Linked DNA regions of Homo sapiens. The protein of the gene in region 1 purifies or fractionates together with the protein of each later gene. This does not show direct contact. Each region holds a gene or a part of one and is shown on either strand. Other genes may lie near its edges.

Region 1 (7,477 bases):
TAAGAAGTAACCAAAATTTTATAAAAACATGGAAACTCTTCCAGAAATTAAATGTTCATATTAATATTGTCCTGGTGAAAGAAAAAGTAAAAGTTAATCTACCGTTTCAAAGAGGTTGGTGCCTAGGTGAGATGTTTCTAATAAATTCTGGTAATATAAACAGAAAACAAGGCTGACATACCTCTACACGTTTATGTCTGAATTTAAGTATTTTGGGTTGTTTGTTTGCATATTGACAATTACTAAATTATTCTTGTAATGAGCCTTTTTTGTTATTTATACATTTATTCATTGTTAATTACTATAATGGATTTCTTCCGTCATGGAGATTATGTTGCGGCTTGGCAAATATACATACATATATATATTTCTTAAATATACTGCTCCAGAGAAAAGTCTTCTTACAAAAGAAAATAAAAACAAAACAACTTTGGGAGGCCGAGGCGGGCAGATCACGAGGTCAGGAGATCGAGACCATCCTGGCTAACACGGTGAAACCCCGCCTCTACTAAAAATACAAAAAATTAGCCGGGCATGGTGGCAGGTGCCTGTACTCCCAGCTATTAGGGAGGCTGAGGCAGGAGAATGGCTTGAACCCAAGAGGCGGAGCTTGCAGTGAGCCGAGATCGCCCCACTGCACTCCAGCCAGGGTGACCGAGCAAGACTCCGTCTCAAAAAACAAACAAACAAATAAATAAATGAATTAATTAATTAATTAAATATAAAAAGAAAAAGAAAAAAGAATGAATACAAAAATAAGAAAATAAGGACATATATATGACAATAAAATTTTTTATTATATTAGACAAGTGGCTACTGTAACTAGAATTTAAAAGATAAATCTTCAAACCATACAAATTGTTGCCATATTCAAGACAATATTTCTTTACTCTGAGCAAAATTTGTGTAATTTTGATACAAAGTATTTTAGCATGGTTAGAAGTATATAGATTAGTGAATATTTTGTTTATTGTTTGTTCTATCATTGTGCATTTTTTTATTTCCCCATATTTATCATTGTGATATATATTCAATGTTAAAAACAGAATGGAAAACACAGCAAATTGGACTGTTGGAAAAGAATGCCATTTAATGGCAATCCATGGAGAAAATTATTATTTTTATTTTCAGCATTTTAAAAGCTATTTTACATGAATATCTGAAGTGAACACTGGACGTCTAGTTGGTTATCAACTAGATTCAACCACTCCACTCTAATTTGGGGAAATGAATCTGTTTTTCTATCAACTAACTCTTTCTCTCAGGTTCAGGAATGACAATTACTTTAAGCTTTTCTTGTTGCCATTCTTTGTTCATGCATGGACAAGTGATCATTTTGATGAATAAGACGAAAGTGACAGTGTTTTTGAGGGCCTTGAGGAAAAGTTGGAGAACCAAACAGAGCCCAAGAACCTAGATAACTGATTGCAGTAGGAAGCCACTGGATCAACTAACCCTTAACCCTACTTTATTTCTCTATGTATACATTGAATTTCTTCATTATTCTATTCATTTTTGGATTTGATTTTGTTTGATTTTGCTATCTGCTTGCTAGTCAATAGATTTCTCATTGATATAGTGATAGCATACAGTAAATATCTGTTTTAAATGTTCTTGTATTAACATATTATAAGCTTTTCCCAAAACAACTTAAATATATTTTTAAGAACTAAAATGCTTCCAGACCATGTGAGAAGGATGTGGTCCTTAGATTATGCTATCCTGACAACACCTGATTGGACAAGGCCTAAATTTCTAATTGAAGGCACATGTATAGCCTATGATATAAAGTAGGTAGACTTAAACTTTCTGGTTAAATGTCTATTTTCAAGGGACAGATCAGAGCTTGCATAATGTTTGACTTTCCATTTCTGCCTGTTCAGTTAAATTCAAACTTCATTAGCCAGTCTTGTCTGCGGTTAGTCATTAGATATATATTTCTTAATTATCTGGTTTAAAAAATTGGTGGCTCTGAATTATAATACTTGAATTCAAATTTTTATTTAGAGTAACTCAATACAATCCTGGCTTCTGCAACTTCAAGCTCTGTTCCTTAGCCTGCTGGCAGGTGATAACTGTGAAATTCCCCCAGACTGCATGTGAAAATAGACCAGAATGTCACTGTGCAGCTATAAAACATCACTTGTGTTTCGGGAATTGTCCATCCTGCCACATGTTTACTGCTGTGGGGACCTCAGATAACTCTGAGTATGATAACTCTGACTTACATATGGATAGTAGTGTATTTAATTTTGAGCTTCTGTTCTTACACAGTCATGTTCCATTTACTATGTATTACCCCCCCATATATGAAAAATTAGTCAGATATATTTCTCTTGTTATAAAGAAAATGACGTAGAAGTAATCATTAAGCTGGGCCGGGTACGGTGGCTCAAGCCTGTAATCCCAGCACTTTGGGAGGCCAAGGCGGGCGGATCACGAGTCAGGAGATCGAGACCATCCTGGCTAACATGGTGAAACCCCGTCTCTACTAAAAATACAAAAAAATTAGCAGGGCGTGGTGGCGGGCGCCTGTAGTCCCAGCTACTCGGGAGGCTGAGGCAGGAGAATGGCGTGAACCCGGGAGGTGGAGCTTGCAGTGAGCCGAGATTGCGCCACTGCACTCCAGCCTGGGCGACAGAGAGAGATTCCATCTCAAAAAAAAAAAAAAAAAAAAAGAAGTAATCACTAAGCTTATCTGATGACCAGTCCCCTAAGTACTTCCAAGTCTTCATTCTTGGTTGTGGCATAGCGGATGAATCTTGCTGGATCCTTGGCTATCGGCTGTTCATCTTATATCCTCTTCCAGAAAGGGCATGCATTTCTTAAGCAATTTACAGCAACTAGTTCCTGTACGTGTTTGATAATAGATTATCTATTTAATAAAATCAGTTTGCTGTTAATGATATTCTACATAAAACATGTAGTTTCACACTGTACCTTCTTTAGAAAATTTAATCCTGTCTCACTGTGGTTTCTATAGTTGCCATTGCTCTTTATTGGTACTGTAATAATCAGGGCAGCAAATTGTGACCCACCTTTGCTCCCTTAGGCTCTAAAATAAGCCTTTGGGACATCATGTTTACAGGTACACTGAGGCTCTAAACTGTGGTTTCAATCCTAAGTGCAACTGGATATTTTATAAACATCAAGATATAAATTGGCATCTCATAAAATGTTAGATTCTTACAGAAATCCTAGACTAGGTCATAGACAGAACAGTGAATTATGTAAATAAATATTTTAAACAGGTATCTCCACCTTTTTTGATACTGTAAAAAATATGAAGGGGGAAATGTATAAGAATACTTCAGAGGTTCTTTGTAAAATTTATTTTTTCCCTATTTACTAACATCTTGAAACACTTAGAAGTGTTTTTTTCTAGCTGAATGCTTTTTTCTACCTGAAAAAATAAAATATTTCCACATTATACTGTTCCTGCTATCCACAGATCTATTCTCCCAGGTTCATCTCTTCAAGATTTGTTCATAAATTATTGATTCCTCCTAATATTCACAACCTCATAGGATGTGCATTTGTGCGTGTGTGTGCATATGTATGTGTGTGCACATGTATGTGTATGCATGTGTGCACATGTGCATGTGTGTATATGTGTGTGCTTGAGTGTCCTACTTTACTGCCCATATAGCTTTTGCCATTTCTTTCCTCAAAAGCTAAGAGGATAGTGACCAAAATATCTATCAGAATTAACAGGATGCTTGAATAATCCTGCCCCACATAGACTTTCTTATTATATAGGTATAATTTAAGAAACTTTTAATATTTTAATGTTTCTCTAGTTTGGTTCAAAAATGGTTTTTAAGTAAATAACAGCTTGAGTAAACAGCATAGAAAATACATATGTATTTTATGTTAAATAATAATAGCTTATATCAAAATCTAATTATAACCATGAATAAAATAAAAGATTTTACATAATAATAAACCAAGGAAAAGAAAAGGACTTATTAAAGTTTAGACATTTCTCTCTCATTATGTCTTTACTTGATTTCTGAGGAGAAATGACCGAATTAAGAAACAGCCATGAGGCATAGACACACAGTGGAAAATCATTTCTCTTTTCAGTAAGTTTTGGGTCTGCTTTAAATTGATCATTTGTTTCATCAGCTAATCCCCAAACAGAGGGCACGTCCGCTCTACTTGCAAAATTCTTGTATGTAAGTTGAATTCTCCCTTTATCAACTCAGGCCAATAAGTACTTTATTTTGTTTTTGCTTGTTGTTAGGGGAAAAAAAAAAAAAACAAAGATAATCAGCTCATACTACTTGCGTAGCTGTCTGCATTTTAATTCCAGACTATGAACGAGCGTCAGAGTGCCCTTATGATATTTTGCACAAAAGGCTCAGTGTTTATGACTCTACTCAGAGAACCCAAAATAGCATTGAGTAAGCAGTGACATACTGACAGTGTTGTGGTACTAAAAGCACAAGCGTCTGTAACTCTGGGCAATGGGGCACATCGAGAGTTTGCTGAGAAGACTGTGAAGCAAAAAGAAGAAAGTTTTTCCTACTCTTCCTTATGTGTCCAACACGAAGTTTGCTGTTCAGTTTTCACAGAACTTCTAGAAGTTGAAGTTACAAAGGTAAGACTGTGATAATCAGGCATATTATAAACTACATGCATCATCTTTAATGAGTCAATAGGTCAAAAAGTACATGACAAAATGTTGCTAGGAAAATATTCTAAAAATATTAAGGAAAATATTTACATAGGAAATAAGGAAAATATTCTAAAAATTTTAAAACCATGATGTGTACTTGTACTGAACTTTCTCAAAACACGTATTTGTGAGAACAGTTCTCCATCTCTGTAATACAGATTGTTGGTGTTGGGGGGAAGTTACACCTATGTTAGGATATTTAAAACTTCTCAAGTTTCTTAGAATAAATGAATCAACCTTTCTTTGCATGTCTTTCTTTGCACTTTTTTCTTTGTTCAGGGTTTTATTTTTTATTTATCATGTATTTACCATGTATATCAGGTAATATGAACAATAGAGTTGTCATCATTAAGTATATGAGAAAAAATATATACAGAATAAATATGAAAAATTTTAAGTATATTATAATTCCAAAAAAATTAAAATATTAGCATTGCTATGAATAAAAACACATATATGCCTAAAATTGTACAGGCATATTAATTTACCTATATGTATTATAACATTTATACATAACACAAAAGGTAATTTCTCAAATATGAAAGTATAAATTAAGAAAAGTATAAATTAGGAAAATGCATACTGTAAAAGACATTTTATATTGTTTCAATTCTAATTTGGTACATGCAATTTTAATTGAATAACTAATTATAATAAAATATTTCAAAATAAGTTTACCAAAGGGATTTAATAAATCTATTAAATATAAAAACATAAAATATTTAGCAACAAAAAATACCTAAATAGAGTGGCAAAGGTTTTCTTTAGATTATGTCAATTTATATTTTAGCTCTATTAATTCATTTGTTGAATTAATATATCTGTAAGAAAGACATTATTTAGATAAAATATTTGAAAATTTAGTAATATATATTTATGTTTTAGATGTAGTTACAATATTAAGTAAAATTATATGCATTAATATATTCTTTTTTCAAATTCTTAATATTGTAATTATCAGCAGTATGCCTACTTACTATAATTTTTGATTTCAAAGAATTTAAATTTCAATGTAATGTGAACATTTATATTGACCAAATAAAATAACTAACAATTTATTTTTAAAAGGAATAAGCATTTCATTATTGTCTGCAATTATTCAAAATTTTTAAACAATCAATTTATGTCATTTAGAAACCACCAGATCTCCTTTCCTTTACATATGTTTTCCACTTTACCAAGCCTTTATAACAGTGAACGAAATGCTCATATCATTATATAAATATCTGATTTTTACAGTCTTACACATTAGTAAATTCTTTACTTAGGCTCCAGTGAAATATTTATAATTTTAGGCACACACAGACACATCTGCATATATCGAAAAGCATATGTCTTCTACTTATATTTTTTGTTTTGTTTTGTTTTTCACTTAGGAATGTTTGTAAGGTACATTTCCTCAAGAAACATAAAAAAATTTTTGATTAAATTATCATAAATTGAAGATGCTTTAAAATGATGTGCACAGATGCCTCCTATGCATTATTAAGAAACCAGATCCATCTTTCAGGAATTTCTCCTAATACAGCTACATATAATCTGATACATATCATCTATAACTAAATATCAACTGATCATTTTTGCCACTCATGATCTTAGCATGTACTCTTAAATATATGTTATGTTTAAAACATTACATAGCAGTATTCAGCATGTTAGTGAGTAGTAATGCATTAGGAATAAATGTGTTAAACTGTTTAAAAGGAGATATTGATCTTTCTATATACCTTCTTTACATGAGAATTTATTGCTCCTAACCAAGTGTTTGAGAACCATGCTGGTGAATAAGAAAAATTTGTTGTCACGACGATTTCCTTTAACATCGATGATCTTCTATCACCTGTATCTTTGCTTTGGTGAAACAGATTGAAGTTGAAACACAACTAAGTATGGAACGTAATAATAATCCCACAGGAATCCTTTCTATCAATGGTGAAGACAGCCCCTGATTGACAAAATGAGTGTCTTTGCAAAAGTGACTAGAAAGATGTTTGCCACTTTAAAATCAAATCAAAACAAAACAAGATAAACTGTACCCTTACAGCGTTTTTTTTTACCCACTCTCACCACCTTTCAATTGAGAGAACACAGCTAAATGCTCTAAAGCCTGTCAAAATGTGTAACAGATCAATTTCCTTTTCAAATGATGCCTGCCCTCTTGAATATGCTGATATGATTCGTTAAGAGAATGCTTGTCTGAATTTAAAACATACTCTAGAATACATACCTTTGTCAAAATGTGTCACATTAATTACTCAATAATTATATTCAGAATCATCCAAGTATGTCTTAAGATTAAAGCAAAACATCATTTTTAAAAATCCTGCCTTGGCACAACACGTGAAATTTGAAATGTTATTTTAGGACAGTGGTTTCTCAACATACCAGAGCAGTAGATCCAGTTTAGCTGTTTTTTAATTCTAAGAAGTTTCATGATAAATGAAATTTGCAAATTTGCAAGATACTGTATTAAAGTGGGGATAATTTTGGCACATCAGTCATGTCTTAAAATAACCTAGGCAGTTTTATCTGTGTGCAAAATTTAGAAATGTCATTCCTGTGGAAATGAGCAAATCATAAATACATCACAGAAAAGAAGTCGCTATTTTTTTGACTTTAAGTTGTTTTATAGTTAAATTGTGTCAGAGAGTTTGCCATCTATTTTATTCCTAAAAAGGCCTGGTGGAGAATATATGACTTTCCTTGATGTAGAGATAATACTACTAAACATAAAGATAAACATAAAATGTAACTAGAATAATAATAAAGGCAAAGAGAAAAGGTATAGATGCATCT
Region 2 (7,027 bases), on another chromosome or scaffold:
TAAGGGTACTAATCCTATCCTGAGGGGACACATACTCATAACCTCATCTAACCCTAAATACCTCCCAAAGGCCCAACTTTCAAATACCAACACAAAGAGGGATAGGGCTTCAATGTATGAATTTTGGCAGGGGGTGGGGACACAGATAATCAGTTCCTAACACACAGAAAAGGAAGTAGAACCTGGATTATTAATGGCTGCTATCTGCCCATGACAGGCAGATTTCTAAGAAGACCCACGTCCCTCCCCTAAGTGAAGGCAGGACCCGTGAATATAATGAGATGTCACTCCCATGATTGCGTTATGGTACGTAAAGAAGGTGTAGGGATTTTGCAGACGCAATTAAGGACTCTGAGCAAATCAAAAGTGACATGATTCTCAGCGGGCCTGAACTAATCAGGTGAGTTCTTTAAAAGAAAGACTGGGGTCATCACCAAGGTCAGAGATTCTCTTACTGGCCTTGAAGAAGCAAGCTATCATGAGTTTTACAGCTGCAATGAAATGAATTTTTCCAACAATCATGTAAACTTGGAAAAGAAGCCTGAGCCTCAGCTGAGCCTTTAATCTTGACTGCAGTCTTGTGAGACCCTGAGCAGAGACCCACAAAAAGCCATGCCTGGACTCCTACCCCATGGAATCAGTGATATAATAAATACAGGAATACACAAGGTTTTAGGCGGCTAAGTCTGTGGTGCTTTATTACACGGCACAGAAAGCCAATATGCTGCCACAACAAGCTTACTTAAAAGACAAGACCTAAGAACAATTCAGATAGATGGCAAAAGGTGGGAAAAGCTAACTAAATAACCATAATTTTATGTTCCAAACTAATGCTGCTTAAGAGTACAGGATCACAAATTCTTGCCATCCATCCTTCATGCTCCTTAGCTCATGAGCTCCTCTGTGCTTGCTTTATAATTATTTTTTACGTTTAGCTTACCCAGGCCTTTCTACCAAGGACATAGAATAAGACAAAGCTGGTAGGCCGAGTGCCCTGGCTCACGCCTATAATCCCAGCACTTTGGGAGGCTGAGACAGGCGGATCACAAGGTCAAGAGTTCGAGACCAGCCTAGCCAAAATGGTGAAACCCTGTCTCTACTAATCATACAAAAATTAGCTGGACGTGGTGGCGGGCACCTGTAATCCCAGCTAATTGGGAGGCTGAGGCAGGAGAATTGCTAGAACCCGGGAGGCGGAGGTTGCAGTGAGCCAAGATTGCACCACTGCACTCTAGCCTGAGCAACGGAGCAAGACTCTATGTCTCGAAAAAAAAAAGAAAAAAAGAAGTTTAAAAAAAAAAAAAAGACAAAGCTGGCCATTTAAGTTAACAGCTACTATAGCCTAAGTATTTCTTCATGGTCAAGTTAACTGGGAATACTATGAAGGGACAGTAAAACATGAAGGCAAAGCTATGATGTGGTTACTTTCTCTATCTTTGTATTCAAAACATAAAATTTGGCAAGCTCACTGAAAAATACCGCCCAATTCTAATTACCTCATCAAACAACAAAATAATGGCTTCTTCTAAGACAGCTCCAATGATTCATTTCTTGTGAAATCCCTTCCCCTTAAGTGTGTGCTAGATTTATTAACTCACTTCCAATGAGCTCAATATAGTCAAGTGATAGGTGGTCCCTTAGAAGGTCACTTTTATAAAAAGCCTGTGGCTTTCATCGTGGGGACTCTCTCGGCTCACTCCCCCAGGGAAGGTGCTGCCAGGTACTGCAGCACTGCGGAGAGGCCCAATGGCAAGGAGCCAAGGCCTGCCAGTGACCCACCAGTAGGCTTGGAAACAAACTTCCCCTTCTTCTCCCAAGCTGAGCCTTCAGCTGAAGTCACAGCCATGGCTAACCATTTGCAACCTCCAGGGCGACTGGAACCCCGTTAAGCCACACCCAGATTCCTGACTCACAGAAACTCCGAGGTAATAAATATTTGTCATTTTAAACCAGGATGTTCTGAGGTAATCTGATATGTGGCAATGGATAACTAATACCACCACCAAATGTAAGGTAAAAACATTAGATGCTTTGAGGCAAGAGTAAAAAAAAAAAAATTCAAAAAGAAGACAAAAGGTCTCACCTTAAGCACTCTTCCTGAAAGGCCAACAATCTCACCATCCTTTGGCTCTACTTCTGTAGCAGTATTCACATCGCCACTTCCTGTTGTATCAATGATATCAACGATTTTTGGTTTTCCATCAGTTGTAACCTGAAAATTAAGAAAATTAAAATATGAATGGTAGATTTTAGGTTTTTATTCCTAAACAATGCAAATCCACATATATATGTGTGTGTATATACAAAATCTACATTCACTTAAAAAAGAGAACTGAACTGTTTTAAGCCAAAAGCCTGAACAAATACTAGTAAGAAAATTTAATCGTGGAAACACTACAGAATCCTTCAAGTCGTTTCATATATTCAATAAACAAATATTTACTGAGCATTTACTATAGACCACACCCTATTTTAGGTGCTGGGGATATGGCAGTGATCCATACGCAAAAATCCCTGACGATCTTATAGCGAGAAAGCAGTTCAGTTAATAACAAAGTAAAATAAAGAACATGTCAGATGTGCTATCACACTGGGTATTAGGGAAAAAAAAGAACATGTCAGATGGTGAAAATTAACTATGGAGAAAAATTAAGCAGGGAAGGGAGATGGTCAGTGTGGGGTTTTCAACATAAGTTTGGCTGGTCAAGGAAGGCCTTGCTGAGATGGTAACATTTGAGAAAAGATCTAAAGATGGTGAGCTGTGGGCTGGACAAGTTTAGAGCTTTAGGGGGAAAAAATGTTTAGTAGTAATGGTACCATTTAATGGCACCATTATTGGATGCCACACTAGCACCTCAAACGCAACAAAGTTCAAGCTTAACATGCCCCCCACCACCTGATTTTCTCCAGGCTTTGCCATCCCAGGAATCCCCACGCCCAGCTGTTCACACTGGAAACTTAACAATCCTCCTCTGATTCTTTACTTCAGTTGACTCCTCACAGCGAAGCTAACAGGAAATCCTGTTAATTCTTTGTCTAGAAGAGAGCTCAAATCCATTGCATTTTCACTACCACTATCCTAACTTTCCAAACCACCACCATCTCTTGCCTCCATGAGGTGAATTACCTAAGTGGTCCCTCAGTTTCCACTCTTGGCCCCATCAAAAGTAATACAGGCTGAGTGACCCTAACCTGAAAATTCCAAATGCTCCAAAATCATGGACATGAAGTTCAAAGGACATGTTCATTGGAGACTTTCGAATTTGCGATACTCAACCTGTATTAAAACAAGCTGTATTTTATCAGTCCTCTCCTTTAAGCCCATCAATGTATTCATGGAGCACTCAGAATACTCGCATAAAAAGCCTCGCACCATCTGACCCCTGCCACCCCGTTACTCAGGAGTCTAACCACGCCAACCTCCTTTCAATTCCTGAAACATGCCAAACTTTTTCCTGCCTCATGACTTTTTAAACAGGTTCCTTCTGCCTAGAATTCTTTATCTCTTCAGTTGTTCCACAGGATTCTATCTTCTCTCAGTTTTCTATTAAAGTCCCTCCTGCAGAAAGGCCTCCTCGATGACCTCCTTTAGGTAGCTGCCATCCTAAACTGGATTATTTTTTCTCACTGTACCTCATTTCCTTCACAGAACATAATTCTATTTCTAATGATACAAGTAGGTGATCTTCATCTGTTCCCCCTATTAGAATAGAAAGCTCCATGAAGGCAAGAGCCATGTCTACTTTATTCACGAACATACATATACCCACTACCTAGCAGTGCCTGTCAGGCATTCAATGAATACTTCATTACTGAATTACAAGACACAAGTTACTTAGCACTAAGACTGATTTTCAAAGGTTTGATTTCTTGCCAGTCCACAAATTTTCATTTGAGCCATAACATGATTGCTACAAGTAACAATATATATTTTTACACATTTTTGTGGGAAAATAATTTCTGGGCTCTTTCTTGGCTGGCTTTCCAAAGGGAATTTGTTGCATTCAGGAATATGTACTGAGTTACCAGCAGGAATCAGCCAGAAAACAGAGACACAACGACTGAAAAAAAAACAAAAAACGAAAAACAAAAAAACAAAAAAACAAAAAAACTCCATCCTCAAGAAAGAAACAGAAACATAAAAACCGTAGAAACTGTCAGTAAAGTGGAAGAGCACAGTCTTCAGACTCCAATTCCACCTGGAGAATTCACACTCTTTACGACAAAGCTTAATGTCCACTGCTCTGGGTCTTTCTGACCAACATGCCCCTCACCCCAACACAAGTATTTCCTCTGCAATAACCTCCAAGCTCTGTAATTAAGGTATACCCTGAAGAAGGAGAGGGAAATTCTCGATGTGGAGAAAACAAAAGCACACATTTTTTTTTCCTTTACCGGACAAAGCAAATGGGTGGTTGGTGGACCCCAAATCTCATTTCAATCTTGTTGCCATGGAACAACTGAGGGCCTGATAGCTGAAGGGGTCATAAAGGCCTCCCAGGCACAGCTGTTATTTTCATGTATGGTAATTCTCAAGTTGGATGTTTACTTCTTGGGAACTGTCCTATAATAGTAACAAATAAGAATTCTAATACTCAGAAAACTCAAAGTCATAATTAAAAAAAATCACTGTGGGAATCATACCAAACCCTGATACAACTATAAAACTTAAATCAGATACTGATTCTGAAGAGATAGGCTATATGTCTCAAAAATATAATTAAAAAAGAGAAAAATGTAAGAAAATCTACCAAAATAAAAATGGAAACAAAATTAAGTTGATACTACTTTATAAAATTAAAACTAGCTAGGTCATGTACTAATCATATAAGAAAATCACCTATTTTAAAATGTATTCCAATATGAAATTTGAAAGATATACAGTAGCACTAAGAACCCAAATCACCTATCTTCACCTCAATAAGCAAACCTGAGTGACTTGAGATCAAGAATAACAAGAGAGCACTAACAAGTCAGATAGATCTCTCATTAGAAACCTCATTATCAATATATTAGCAAAGGAAAAAAGCCTAATGGGATTTAATGGCTTATTTGTCACCTATTTCCACATGCTTTACTTACAAGGATCTCTCTCCTACACACACAAATTTTCATTACAAATTATTATACATGCAATTATCCTATCCATGAATTTCTTACTTTAATATTAGATAAAGAAAACCACTTCACTAGACATAAAAAGACAAAAACAGAAATGTAGGGTCAGAGGAGGGTTTTAAAAAGGCAAACCCCCTGAGGATTTGCCATGGTGTTTTGGGAGAAGTAAAGGAAAGGAGGAAGCTGAACTGCTAACAATGGAACTATATCACTCATCTCTGAGAAGGGGGAGGCTTCACATGGGAAAGAGGGACTGAAAGCATGGGCAGTTAGTATCGGTAAGAGCTTCGGTATTAAATCCTGGGTCCTGGGGTGGGAGACTGGGAAATGCTTACTGGGCTATGTTGGCTGGATGAAACAGAAATTGCCCAAAGCTTTTCCCAAAATGTCAAGAATCTAAGTTAGTGTATGTCTTCAATGTAACCAGTAAGGTAGAGGAGTTAGTGAAGGTTGGAAGATTTGCCAAACATTTGCAGAGAGGACCAGAACAAAAGGTAGGACATTTGCAGAGAGGACCAGAACAAATGGCGGGAAGTTTGCAATCTATCATAAACAACACAAAGTTAATGAGTTGACTTAAAATTTCAGGAAAGGTACTGAAAATATTCTTTTAAGCAAATAAAGATTTAATAAATATTAACCAGTGACTTTTATTCTAAGAATATAATGATTAATATAAATAAGACAATCTTTGCTTTTGTAAAGGTTACTATTGGTTGGAAAGAAAAAGTAAGTAGAGAGATGATGACAAAACAGGACAACAAATAATAGAGGTCAGGCCAGTCTGGGTAACACAGTGAGACCCTGTCTCTACAAAAAAATTAAAAAATTAGCTGGGTATGGTGGCACATGCTTATGGTCCCAGCTACTGCAGTGGCTGAGGCAGGAGGCTTGCTTAAACCCAGGAGTTTGAGGCTGAAATGAGTGGTGATCCTGCCACTGTGCCACTGTACTCCAGCCTGGGTGACAGAGTGAGACCCTGTCTTTGAGGGAAAAAAAAAAAAGAGGTTAGGACACTATCTATGAAAGCATACAAAAACATGTAAAAACACAAAACCCAACTTGGGGGGAATGAGGGAAAGCTAACTGAAAGAGAGGTAATAAAATTTTAGTGAATGTAAAAATAGAGTTTTATGAAACTACTCGTAACCTCCTCAAACCTTTTTTTTCCCTCTATGAGGAAATTATATTCCTTCATTATGCCCATATATATTTTTTCCATTCAACAAAAACATTTAACATTACAAGCACATGTCATACAATTTTGATACATGCTTTCAAAGATTTTTAAGTTAACCAGGAAAAAGTTATCTAAACAGAAACACTAAAATACATATTTCAGGTGCTATTAAGGGGATCTAAGCAAATTGCTATAACAGCAAAGAGACAAAAAGCCTAAATAACTCTTAGGAGGGATTGGGCCTTACTCACCTCTGAAGCTGCAGGCCCTAACACAATGGCAAACACACATAAATACGAGGTGGTGGGGGGAGGGGGCGCGCAGAATTAAATCAGTTGATTTTCCAAAACATAATGGTGTCAAGACCCGACTGGATCTTAAAGGATGAAGCAGGAGTTTACAGATGACGGATGGTAGAAGCCTGACGGAAGATGAAACGCCACATGTAAAGGCATGTATTGGCAAAAAGACCTGAAACATCTAGGTGAGTGTAAGAATGAAATGTTCAAGGGGAGGCAAAGGATGAAAGGTGGGGATGAAGGGGCTATGGACATAAGAAATGATGAGAACTGAGGCTACATAAGGAGGCCAGAGTTGGATGGCAAATGGCCTCATATATACCATTCAATTTTTTTTTTTAATTTTTACACAAAAGCAGTTGAGATTCCAAAATGGCTTTGTTTTAAATGAGGGTATAATACAAGGTTTTTTTTTTTTTTTAAGGAATCT
Region 3 (7,027 bases), on another chromosome or scaffold:
CAAAATCTAGACAGCTATAATAAGCCATGCCATAGTGGTTAATGAAAATTACTACAGAATAGCATTTCCCAACCAGGGGTGATTTTATACCTCACCCCCCAAAAGGGGTATTCAGCAATGTCTGGAGACATTTTTGGTTGTCACAAAGGAGATAGGGAGTGCTAGCGGCATTTAGTAGACAAAGGCCAGGGATGCTGCTACACATCCTACAATGGACGGCACAGCCCACAGCAAAGGATTATCCAAAATGTCACCAATGCAAGGCTGAGAAACCCTGCCACAGACATACTACAAGAATGAAAATTATTATTATTACTATTTTTTAAGACAGAGTCTCTGTCTGTCACCCAGGCTGGAGTGCAGTGGCACAATCTTGGTTCACTGCAACCTCCGCCTTCCAGGTTCAAGTGATTCTCCTGCCTCAGCCTCCTGAGTAGCTGGGATTACAGGTGCCTGCCACCACACCTGGCTAATTTTTGTATTTTTAGTAGAGACAGGGTTTCACTATGTTAGCAAGGCTGGTCTTGAACTCCTGACCTCAGGTGCTCTGCCTGCCTCAGCCTCCCAAAATGATGGGATTACAGGCGTGAGCCACCATGCCCGGCGAGAATGAAAATTATTAATAATTGAACAAAGAGGTGAACAGATACGTAATAAAGCAAATATAGCAAAATGTTAACAACCGTATAAACTATGTGATGGGTATATCATGTTCACTGTATAATTTACTTTTCTATGTTAAAAAATTTTCACAATAAAATGTTGAGAGCCAGGCATAGTGGCTCGTGCCTATAATCCCAGCAATTTGGGAAGCTGAGGTGGGAGGACTGCTTGAGCCCAGGAGTTCAACACCAGCCTGGGCAACAGTGAAACTTCATCTCTACAATAAACACAACATAAAATTAGCTGGACGCAATGGCACACGCCTGTACTCCCAGCTACCCACAAGGCTCAGGCAGGAGTATTACTTGAGCCCAGGAGGTAGAGGCTGCAGTGGGCCATGACTGCGCCACTGCACTTCGGCCTAGGAGACACAGCAAGACCCTGTCTCTAAAAAAAAATAAAAACAATCTTCAGTTACCCTCTGAACAAGATAAGTTTGAACTGTGCCCCAAAAATAGGTATTTTGTGTTTGAACTCAAAAAATAAAAAACGTTGGAAAAAAAATGAAGTCCTAATTATATATCCTAATTATATGTTTAGCAAACAAATTTGCAATATAGATAAGCCTAAATTCTTATGGTACTAAAATAATAAAACTGATATAACTTGAGGAACCATCAAGATACTCACTAACACGTTCATGTAGAAGCAAGTAAGGATATTTCAGTATTTCAAGAAGAGGAACTCGAAGCTTATTTTCAAAGTCTTGCCCAGTGATGTCAAACAGTGGCATCTCTCCATTATTGTCTACTATATATAACTCATCATCATCTCCAATTTCTGCCTTCATGGATTTTTCAAAGTGATTTATGAGACGTAAGGTTTCTAATTCCCATAAAACCTAGAGGAAAATAAAATGGGCAGTGTGCGTTATGTCTTATCATCAACAAAATACACTGAATGTGACGACCTAGAAAGCCTTTTCCTAAGTACAAAAATTCTGAAATGTAAAGTATTAGAGCTTGTATTTTAGATTTAAAGAAAACTATTCAAATGTGGCCACTTTTATGAAAAGTGAGTACACAGAGTATGAGATATTGGCTAGGCACAGTGGCTCACAGCTGTAATCCCAGCATTTTGGAAGGCTGAGGTAGGAGGACTGTTTCAGGTCAGGAGTTCGAGACCAGCCTGGGTAGCAAAGCAAGACCCTGTCACTAAAAAAAAAAAAAATAGAAAAATTAGCTAGGTGTGGTGCATGCCTACAGTCCTAGCTTCTCTGGAGGCTGAAGCAAAAGGATCACTTGAGCCCAAGAATCTGAAGCTACAGTGAGCTATGATTGTGCCACTGTACTCCAGTCTGGATGACATAGGGAAACCCTGCCTCTAAGAGAAAAAGAAAACAGGCCAGGCACACTGGCTCCTGCCTGTAATCCCAGCACTTTGAGAGGCTGAGGTGGGCGGATCACCTGAGGTCGGGAGTTCAGAACCACCCTGACCAACACGGAGGAACCTCGTCTCTACTAAAAATACAAAAATAGCCAGGCGTAGTGGTGCATGCCTGTAATCCCATATTCGGGAGGCTGAAGCAGGAGAATCGCTTGAACCCAGGAGGCGGAGGTTGCAGTGAGCCAAGATCACGCCACTGCACTCCAGCCTGGGCAACAACAGGGAAACTCCATCTCAAACAAAAAACCAAACAAACGAAAAAAAACAAGAAAACAAAAAATAGTATGCTATGTTTAAACACTTTTTATTTTTTTTTGAGACAGAATCTCGCTGTCGCCCAGGCTGGAGTGCAATGGCGTGGTCTCAGCTCACCGCAACCTTGGCCTCCCAGGTTCAAGCGATTCTCCTGCCTCAGCCTCCTGAGTAGCTGGGATTACAGGCGCCCACCACCACGCCTGGCTAATTTTTGTATTTTAGTAGAGACGGACTTTCACCATGATGGCCAGGCTGGTCTCAAACTGCTGACCTCGTAATCCACCTGCCTCAGCATCCCAAAGTGCTGGGATTACAGGTGTAAGCTACAGCACTCAGCCTTAAACACTTCTCTTGTAGAAGTTTTCTATAAATATCTCAACATCCCTATCAACTACATTCAAAAAAAAAAAAAAGAGAAGCTGGAGCCTCTCTGTCAAATGCAAAACCGAGGCCCTTCTATGTCTTCCCTTCTATGTTCTAGCCATAGCTAACTACCTTAGTGCAGCTTGTGGTATAAAAGACGCTGGATAGCTTCATAATTAGAAAACTTTATAAAGTGCACGTTTCTCAACACAAGTCCATTACTAATCATCCTCTCCTCTATATACTGTATATATCTCTATGGTCTACGTTCTGTTTTTCATCAATAAATAAACCAAATATTCAAAGCCAAATATTTAGAATTATATCTTTCACTTTTGTTATCATGACTGGAAAATATGCTTGCCCTTAAAGGTTTATGCCATTTGCCCATTAAAAAAAGAAAAAAAGAAGTTATTATTACCAATTAAAAAAAAAAAACCCTGGCCAGGCGCAGTGGCTCACAGCTGTAATCCCAGCACTTTGGGAGGCCGAGGTGGGCAGATCACCTGACGTCAGGAGTTTTGAGACCAGCTGGGCCAACATGGTAAAACCCCATCTCTACTAAAAATAAAAAATTAGCCGGGTGTGGTGGCACGTGCCTTTAGTCCCAGCTACTTGGGAGGCTGAGGCAGGAGAATCGCTTGAACCCACCTGGGAGGCAGAGGTTGAAGTGAGCCAAGATCACGCCACTGCACTCCAGCCTGGACAAGAGAGTGAGACTCTGTCTCAAAAAAAAAACAAAACAAAAAAAAAACAACCCACTAACAAAAACCCAGGCCATTCAGATACTCAGATACATGCATGTATTATAGCACTGACCAAAAAATTATGAAACAAATCCCCTCCCAATGACTTTATTTCATTAAATTATTTTATACCAATGTGACTAAAAGCAACAGATCATAAAATTCTGATCCAGGTTTCAATTCCATCCGTGATAAACATTTACTCAGCACCTAGTATATACCAGGCAATGAGTTAGGTACTTGACTTATATTAGCCTTCAAAGTCGGCCAGGCATGGTGGCTCATGCCTGTAATTCCAACACTGGGGGGCCAAACCGGAAGGATCACTTGAGCTCAGGAGTTCAGGACCAGCCTGGGCAAAATAATAAGACCTCGTCTCTACAAAAAAATTTTAAAAATTAGCAGAGCATGGTGGCACATGCCTGTAGTCCCAGCTACTCAGGAGGATGAGGTGGGAGGATGGCTTGAGTCCAGAAGGTTGAGGCTGCAGTGAACCGTGATCGCACCACTGCACTTCCAGCCTGGGCAACAGAGCAAAGACCTTGTCTCCAAAACATAGCAAAACAAACTATGAAAACCCATGTGGCCCATGGAAAATCATGAGACAGCACTTCCACTTTCAGGAATTTGTCCTAAGAATATACTCGAATGTGTAAAATGATATATGTATAATCACTCCACTGCACTCCAGCCTGAGTGACAGAGTGAGACTCCATCTCTAACAACAACAAAAACAAAACAAAAACAAAAAAAAAAACCCACAAAGTTGAAATCGTATCATCATTTCTCTGAATACTTCCAACGGAGTTCAAACTTACTCTCTTCCCAGCTATCAAGCTCTGAAAAATATTGCCCATCTAATATATTTTACCTCATGCAAGAATGGCAATTCATCTCTTGCTTTGTGGTACTCAGCCACACACTCCAAGCAGTAGCAGAGGTCTTCGTCGGCTGTTTGAAATTCACCGGACGGAGTGTTGGAAGCATAGCGCTTTAGGAAGTCAATGGTGGAAGCACCACCTGGCGTACACCAACAACATGTGCTCATTCTGTACCTACAGCCAGAAAAGATGACATCAAGAAGAAAACCAACTTCAGACCTACTGTGTGTCAAGAATAGGTACACTTTCAACTTGTGACCCTGGTTTCAATTTAAAATGTGTCACTAAAACCCAAATCTTCTGCTGGCTGGCTTATCAATCACTGATTCACTAAACTAAAAAAATCCTTCTATTTTTGACATACGAAAAATACAGAAAAATAAAAGCATTGTATAAGGAATAAGTATCATAAGGCAACATAAAGTTGTGCTACAGAGAAGGCTCAAAACAACACAGTACCGATAGAAAATATATAGAGACCCAGACTTACCAATATTTTCAAAGTACAGATTTTGGAATGGGGAAAAAAGTTACCAACTACAAACTTAAGTTCATTTCATAAACTGAATGGACCTAGCTCAGCATTCTCATCAGGAGTGATGTCACCCTCAAAGAGATCTAAAACTAGTTAGTGGGACGTGAAAAAGCCCTCCTCTTTTTAGATATAAAGCTCAGATAAACATACAGTACATAAAGAGAGACACAATATATTGGTGGTAATAAAATTCACAGGAGAGGCAGTTTTTAAAAATGTTTAAAAACTCTCCACTCAGGGAGAAAGGTTAGAAGGAGGTTAAAAAACCTAAGTAAGCTGGGAACGGTGGCTCATGCCTGTAAGCCCAGCACTTTGGGAGGCCGACGTGGGCAGACTGCTTGAGGTCCGCAGTTCGAGACCAGCCTGGCCAACATGGTGAAACCCCATCTCTACTAAAAAGAATACAAAAATTAGCTGGTGGTGCGCATCTGCAATCCTAGCTGCTTGGGAGGCTGAGGCAGGAGTACTGCCTGAACGTGGGAGGCAGAGGTTGCAGTGAGCCAAGATTGCGCCACTGCACTCCAGCCTGGGTGACAGAGTGAAACTCTGTCTCAAAACAAACAAACAAAAGAAACCTAAGTGAAGACACTGAGTATGTGGGAATGGAAACATGGCAGTGTGAGATTTTTGAGTATCACCGTCACCCTAAAATTCAGAATACATAATCTTTACCAACAGGAAATATAAAACATCTCAACAGAAACTAGGCTTGGCTGCTGAGGCTTCTGTGGCATAAAGCTAGTTCCTAAAATAAAGTGATTTTTTAAAATTCTTTAATTTCTTCTTATACCCACAATTAAATAATTATTTAGAAATGCATAAGCATAATCAAATACATTGTCATATGAATTGATTTTTTAAAATTTATTAAATATTACTTTTACTTATGCTTTTGAAGAGGTATACTTTCTTCATGGTTCTAAAAAGAATTTAGGGTAGCTTTCAACATTAAAGTACATACACACAAAAGGACATTTAAAAATGAGATTTCAAAAAACAAAATCAAAACTTCTTTAGAAGAAATTTAATTTCACTAAGTTCTACATGAGGAGCTTCCTGAAAGCAGAGAAAAAGGATAACATGAGTTACACAGTTCTCATCGACGTGGGGGGGAAAAAGAGTATGCAGTGATAGCCGCAGAGTACCGCCCTTTCCTGACACAAACTCTAACTCAATTACATTTTATTAATGCCTTCTAGTACAAGGGCACTGCAGACTAGGAAATGCCAAGTAACATGGGATAAGGTCTTCAATGTATTTCTGCAGAATTTAAAATTATTTTATTCAAAAGAAGAATTACTTATACCTAAGAGGCCAACATCACACTACTAGTAAGTTAACAGCTTGCAGAAGCTGTTTTTTTTTCCGGTAACCTAGTTTAATATGGAAAGTGAACTTAGAAGACGTAAGAACAGAAAGTGAAACTTCATGGAGGTTTCTCAAACATTTGAAGCATGATTTCAGCAGCTAACAGACTGCAGCCAATTTAAGCTTTAAAAAACTTAAGTGAGACTACCATGCAAATAAAATGTTGCATACTTCTTTTCCCACTTACCTTACTTGAAGCTCCAAATGTTGTGTACTTTAAAATAAGTACTAACAAAGGAGACAACAAAAGAAACCTTCTATTAAGAAAATTACAGAATTTGCTTTTTATTTCACTTAGAAAACTAGCCTATTTCCACAACCAAAAAAGCAAGACTAAATTTTCTCAAAATATATAGGAGTTACTACCAAAATAGGTGAGTGTCATGGCCGCTAGAAGATAACGGAGAATACTGCTGCAGAGCACACCAACAAGAGAACATGTGCTTCCATGGTTCTTCTTCAAAAGGCTGTGTGTGTGGTTTTGTCTTCAAATTTAAAATCATCACTGGCCTAATGGCTAAGCCCAGGAAACCTCAATAGGGCATATTTTGTCTTTAAGGAGAAAATTATTGCTTCTAAACTACTGTGAATCCTCTTAAGCTTTTATACAACTCAGTTCTTCTTGAGGTCTATTTTGTTAGTTTCATCAGACTGTAACGGCTTGCAATCATTAGTGAATGACAAATGGGTGTGTCCAGACAATACTCAAGTTGCAAAACCAAAATTAAAGCAACTCTCTGAGCACCCACCAAAAAGAGAGCTAATGTGTCAAAACCAAAAATATAGGATGCTTCACCATAGGTATTACTGTAATTTTCTACAGACTTATC

What was found.
Region 2: the proteins of CDH19 (region 1) and TPP2 purify together in Homo sapiens (affinity purification with mass spectrometry; 2 studies listed by BioGRID and IntAct, with this or other methods). This does not show direct contact.
Region 3: the proteins of CDH19 (region 1) and SETX purify together in Homo sapiens (affinity purification with mass spectrometry; 2 studies listed by BioGRID and IntAct, with this or other methods). This does not show direct contact.

Annotation. Positions count from the first base shown.
Region 1 is NC_000018.10:66,601,080-66,608,556, reverse strand, and holds the start of CDH19 (cadherin-19 isoform 1 preproprotein), read left to right. Parts: upstream 1-4,466; 5' UTR 4,467-4,603; intron 4,604-7,477. UniProt on the Homo sapiens protein: Cadherins are calcium-dependent cell adhesion proteins. They preferentially interact with themselves in a homophilic manner in connecting cells; cadherins may thus contribute to the sorting of heterogeneous cell types.
Region 2 is NC_000013.11:102,599,978-102,607,004, reverse strand, and holds part of TPP2 (tripeptidyl-peptidase 2), read right to left. Parts: intron 2,213-7,027; coding exon 2,084-2,212; intron 1-2,083. UniProt on the Homo sapiens protein: Cytosolic tripeptidyl-peptidase that releases N-terminal tripeptides from polypeptides and is a component of the proteolytic cascade acting downstream of the 26S proteasome in the ubiquitin-proteasome pathway.
Region 3 is NC_000009.12:132,344,968-132,351,994, forward strand, and holds part of SETX (probable helicase senataxin), read right to left. Parts: intron 4,469-7,027; 5' UTR 4,462-4,468; coding exon 4,285-4,461; intron 1,505-4,284; coding exon 1,294-1,504; intron 1-1,293. UniProt on the Homo sapiens protein: Probable RNA/DNA helicase involved in diverse aspects of RNA metabolism and genomic integrity.